2 separate regions of the Homo sapiens genome follow, and region 2 is linked to region 1. The links come from fine-mapping of genetic effects on gene expression. Tissue or cell type: whole blood. Region 1 holds a variant in brackets; the other region holds the start of a gene. All regions are shown on one strand. Distances are from middle to middle.

Region 1 (2,904 bases):
TTATCATTCACACCTTCATTTATTTATTCACTGATATTTATTAGACATTTGCATTGTTGCATTGTCCCAGGCAGCAAACAACATTCCCAAAAGGAGGAAGGTAAGAACACACCTGAAGGCATTAGAGAAGTGCTTCTCAAACTATCTGTGGTAATAGACCAACTGGGTTTTTAATTTGTTTTTTTCTTTTTTTCCCTATCGTGGATCAGTAAATGGTCCTATTGCACATAGTGAATATGCAGGTTGCACCACATGTGACTCACCTCACAAATTCAGCAACACTTGAACTGGTCTATGCCTTGTTCAACAAGCATCACATACTTGGATGTCACAGCAATGTCAAATTGCTATAAACATTTCTAAATGCTTACACTTGATTTCTGGAGTTAGCTGGTACCAATCTAGTAAGAAACCATTTGTGCGTCAGCACCAGTCACAGGCCACTGTCCTAGAGTGTTTGCTATAGATGCCATGGTAGAAGAGGGGACAGCTTATGTCAGGGGCTCAGAAGAGACTGGACAGTTTGCCTGGGTGGTTTAGCTGTAAGGGGAACAGAAAGCATGTTAGAGGAAGGCAGAATTATGAAAAGTGAGCTAGGCTTCCCAGCCAGCCGAACAAGGATTTTTAGTCATGAAGAGAAACTGGAGCATAGATAGAGGGGGAAGGAGGAGCACTTGGGCTTGCTGAGTTGGAGGATAGAGGGGACATAGTGGAAAAGGTTGCTGTTAGGCAAGAGATGAAGCTAGAGAGTCACGTGGGGTTGAGATCATTCGTTCAGCGAATACTGTTTGGAAGTCAACCATGTGCCAGACCCTGCCTAGGAATTGGGGTTAGAAGTCCAGCAGGGACAGTTTTGCTCTGCTAGAGATTAGAAGGGTGCTAAGCGTCACCACAGAGTTAGACTTTTTAGTAACTGTAGGCAGACTTTGAAGGATTTTGAAGTAGAGCATGGTGTGACTGCTTTAATCCTTGGGAAGATGACTCTGGTGGCCTTGTGTACAGTGGATGGCTGTTCATTTAGGAAAGTTAGTTGAAAGGTGATTTCAGTAATCTTGGCCACACAAAGACGGAAGTGAACTAGGCAGTAATTATAATTATTACTCAAATTTACCGAGAACTTTGTATAGGGCTTAAAGCTACAGCATACTAAAAACAGATAATTCACTAGGCAGACAAGAGAACATCAACACAAGACAGACTTATCAGTAGACAAACTTATTAGTTCACTTCCTTCTGTGTGTGGCCAAGAGATGATAAAGCTCAGGAAGTAGCAGTCAGGGGTTGAGGGGAGGAAGTGGAGTTGAAGGAAAGGGGAAGGGACTTTTAGGAGAAATATCATAAAGATGGCATACACCACAGGTCTTAAGGGGTCAGTGGAGTTTAAGGATGGCTCACAGTTTCTGATTTGTGATCAGGTTC[G/A]TGGTCCAACTCATTGGGAGAACGAATAATAGAAGGGGAGGGTGTTGGAGAAGTGAGAAGTCAAGAGTCTAAAGATGTCGTACCAGTTAGGTGCCTTTCTGTGTTCCTGTAGTGCTTTGTGCTAACTTCTTGCATAGAATTGTCCATTGGGCTGAAGTACTTATGAGCTCCTTGAGAATGTGTACCCATTTTTCTATCCCAGACACTGGTCACAGGGCCTGGCATGTGGAACAGGCTTGACAAATGGTTCTTAAACTAAACCGAAAGATAGTGTATTAGTTTTCTATTGCTGCCATAACAAACCACCACAGACTTTTTAAGTTCATTGAAATAACACAAATGTATTATCTCACAGTTCTGTAGGTCAGAATTCCAGGTTGGCACAGCTGGTTTTTCTGCTCTGTGTTTCACAAGGCCCAATTAAGGTGTTGGTCAATTGGGCTCTTATTAGGAGGCTCCATTTGGAGCTCCAATGGGAGCTTGGAATCCATTTCTAAGCTCATTCAGGTTGTTGGCAGGATTTACTTTTTTTGTGGCTGTAGGACAGAGGTTCCTGTTTCCAGGCTGTCTGTCAGAGGCCACCCTTACCTTCTAGGAACCTCTCCCCAGTCCTTGAATGTGGGCCAGTCCATCCCAGAGCCAGCAAAGTTGCACTGAATATTCATGCTTCAAATCCTCCTTCTTCCAGCCAGAGACAGTTCTCTACTTTTAAGGATGCATTTGATTACATCGGGCCCAACATGATATTCCAGGGTAAATCCCTATTTTAAGGTCTATACATTTAATTACATCTGTGGAAACCCTTTTGGACATATTAGGCGCGGAGGGGAGAGCATCATTTTGTCTACTACAATAGTAATTATCCACCAAGTCAGGTAGGCATTATGATCGTGGTTTTTTTTGTTTTGTTTTGTTTTTCTCTCGAGACAGAGTCTCACTGTCACCCAAGCTGGAGTGCGGTGGCTCGATCTTGGCTCACTGCAACCTCCACCTCCCAGGTTCAAATGATTCTCGTGCCTCAGCCTCCTGAGTAGGCAGGATTACAGGCGCCCGCCTGCCACCACGCCGAGCTAATTTTTGTATATTTAGTAGGGACGGGGTTTCACCATGTTGGCCAGGCTGGTCTCAAACTCCTGACCTCAGGTGATCCACCCACCTCGGCCTCCCTAAGTGCTGGGATTACAGGCATGAGCCACCGTTCCCAGCCTATGATCGTGGTTCTTAAACACTTATGCATTCTAGCACCTCTCATTTGTACAGGGAAGCAAAAGGAGACTGAATTTGCCCAGTGTCAGATGGGAATGGGAACCGAGATAGATCACGACCCTTCAACTTCACTCTTTCTTCTAACCGTCAGTACATTGTCCATCTCATCCATCTGTCTATCCACCTATCCCATCTATTCAACTAGTAGTAATTCATTCATTAATTCATAAACATTTGAGTAGCTGCTTTTTTAAAAGAGTCTATGCTAGGTTGGGAAAT
Region 2 (2,904 bases), 24 kb before region 1:
TTCTTTATTCATGTATTGTCTGTCATCTCCAACTAGAATGAACGTATAGTCCCTGAGAACGGGGAATTTGTTATCTATTGAAACTTCAGGGCCTGGAACATAGCAGCACTCCAGTATTTGTTAAATAAATGAATCCATTTGAGCTTCTGCATATTTGAAATTTCATAAGTATATATAAATGGTAAATTGTGATAGACTCAAAGGCTAGTATCATTAGGCAATTGTCTCCCGTTCCCAAAAGACTTCCTAAGTCTACTAAATGATCTGTTTTTAATATGAAAGCAAAGTTATCTAAAAGAAAGGAGAAATCTTTAGTTTTTTTGACTTCGAGATTCTTTGCAATTTAAGCTTTTTTTTTTTTTTTTTTTTTTTTTTTTGCTTTTCTTTCAATGGACACTTTCGAAGTTTTACATAAAAACATTAAAACCTCTTGTTTAATGTAGTGGGATTAAGCTGCCGAAGGCAATCCCTACATGTGAGGAAAATATGCTTCCGACACCCCAATTTTTTTTTTCTCCCTACCCATCCTCTCTGGTGGTCCTGACGCTCCCAGCCCCTTTTTGTGTTTCTTGATTCCATGCTGAGAACTCGCAATACAAACTCAAAGCCCACATTTGTGAGGTGGTTGGGTCAGGACTGCAACTAAAAATGATTATTGTTTTTTAGGTTTCTGGACAGTTCAACACCAGCCTTTGGTTTTGCCTCAGAAGCAGGGAACTTCTCTAGGCCCCTATTTTGCCTTTCAGCTATTGATGATCCAAATCATACCAGCGATTAGGAGGATCATTACCAGACACAAGGCCAGGTACGTTTAAAAAATAAATAAACCAAGCGCAGGTGCACACTCCGAACGCTCATCCCCACCCCCACTTTCCAATCCAACAGTAGGTAACGAGAAATGAATTTTCTAGACTTTTTTTCCTGCAGCAGTTGCTGTTACCAGAAACAAAGTTAGATGATATACAATCTAATCTTCATTGCTCTAAAAGTCCTCTCCCCATGCCCCCCAGGCTGCCTCAATTCTCTAGTTTCTTATTCCTTATAAGCAGGGGATGGAGCTGAACCAAGTCGGCCTTCCCCTCCCAGGGCCTTCTCCTCTTGGTCTGGCTTCCATTTCAGATGCGAATTAACCCTCCCAATACCCTTTCAGAAGCAAGGAGTCCCCTTTTTCTCCGCCTCCAGCCTCAGCTAGGTTTTCCTCATTTCGGATTTTTCTACTGCTCATTCCCAAATGAGTCACGCATGACGACAATTTCCACTCTGCTATGTCAGCCTGGAGATGTCCCCCAAGTGATGGCATCTGCTCTCGGAAAGAAAGGTCATCGGTGCCACGACCAGCCCCGCTAACCCAGAGCGGCCGGTGGGCCCCAGTCCCGAGAGTCAGGGCGCGCGGCGGAGGCGAGGCCGGGGCGGCCTCCGCCCTCCCGGCCGCTCCCCCTCGCGCCGCCCCGGCTCCTCCCTCCGGCCCTCGGCGGGCACCTGGCGGCGGCGGGCAGGGGGCGGCGCTGCGCGCGTCACGCGGCTGGGTGGGATAGCGGGCAGGTGACACCCGGCGGCCTCCTCCCCTTTCCAACCCAGTCGGCGGCCGGGACAGCGGGGGCCGCTGTGAGGAGCTCCGCGCTCGCGCTGCCAGTCGCCGCCCTCTCTCCCGCGCGCGCCCGGCGCTTCGGCTCCGCTCCCTGTGCGGTGAGTGCGGGGTTCCAGGCCGGCGGGCAGGGGCCAAACTTTCCCGGCGCGCGGAGGAGAAGAGACTGGGGAGGGAGGCAGAGCCGAGGGGAACGGCGTCGGGAGTGGCCGGATGGAGGAACTTGGGCGCGGCGCGCGAGAAGTGGGACCCGGGTGCGGGGGCCCCGGGAGCGGGGCCAGGCCCTCCCTGGGCTCGGGAGGCGCTTGGGAAGTTCTGTCCCCGCTGCCTGCGCGTGGGGAGGACCGAGGCCCTTTTCGCCGGAGCGCGGGGCCGCGGCGCTCACCTGCGCCTTCTCGGGAGCCCCCACCCGGCAGCATCCCGAAGGGAAGGTCGGGCCCGGTGGGCGCGCTGCGGAGCGGAGCCTGGACTGGGGTCCCGCGCGGCGCTGGCCCTGCGGAGCGGAGCGGGAGGGGCAGAGGTGCTCGCCGGCGGGACTGGGAGGGAGAAGGACCTGCTCGACCTTGGACGCGGAGGTCATTTTCCCAGCTCCGGGGTCTGGCCTCGCTAGCCACCCCCCCAAATTCCGGAGCCCCTTTCTTTCTGTTTCCTTCCTTCCCCTTTGGGCGCTTTTTTTGCTCCCGCGGCCAGATGAACTTGGGGCGCTGTCCCTTCGGCTCCCCGAGCCGCATCCTGTCTTGGTGGCTGCTGCTGGCCGGGAGGAGGCTGATGAATACAGAGCCGTGGAACAGGTCGTGCCGGAGATGGAAACAGGAAAGCCTGTTGTTTTGTCGTCCCAGGTATCGTTGGTTCTTTGGGAAATGGGCTTTCCCAGGTTCGTTGGGAAATGGGCTTTCCCAGGTTCGTTGGGAAATGGGCTTTCCCCCTTCAAGTCAGAGCTGTTTCAAACTTCACCCGGTGCGGACAGAGCGCTCTTTGGAGCTCCCTGGGGAACTCGGGACGGGAAGGAGCGGGTCTTTACACCTGTCCTGCTCCCAGTGTAGTTAGTCCCGCGTCGACTGAAGAACAGTTTTAGCGACCCGAGTTCCTCGCCAGTGGTCTTTTCCCTCTTGCTACGATCTCCCCTCGGAAAGCATGTTCACTTAACCCTGTGCTCTCGGATTACCCTTTATTTCATTCCTCACTTTTATTGCTTACGTGCTCCGAAAGGGTCATCGATACCTGGTGGCTGCCTCTGCGTTCTTACCACGCACCCGCTTATTCATTCCCTTTCTTTGTAGTTTCTCTTCGTACTACTGATCAGAAATTGGTCTCCCCAA

What was found. PIP is the estimated chance that this variant, and not a neighbour inherited with it, causes the effect.
Region 2: ELOVL7 starts here. The variant in region 1 is fine-mapped to the expression of ELOVL7 in whole blood (INTERVAL, PIP above 0.99).

What each region holds. Positions count from the first base shown.
Region 1 is chr5:60,819,222-60,822,125 of GRCh38, reverse strand. The region is part of intron 1 of ELOVL7 (ELOVL fatty acid elongase 7); the gene reads left to right. Among named protein-coding and RNA genes, the nearest start is that of ELOVL7, 24 kb to the left of the region's middle. The variant G/A (reference allele first, on the strand shown) is at 1,420.
Region 2 is chr5:60,842,942-60,845,845 of GRCh38, reverse strand. ELOVL7 (ELOVL fatty acid elongase 7) reads left to right here and starts at 1,577. Exons shown (of 9, transcript NM_024930.3): 1 at 1,577-1,686. RefSeq lists silencers at 1,356-1,655, 1,676-1,835, 1,846-1,905.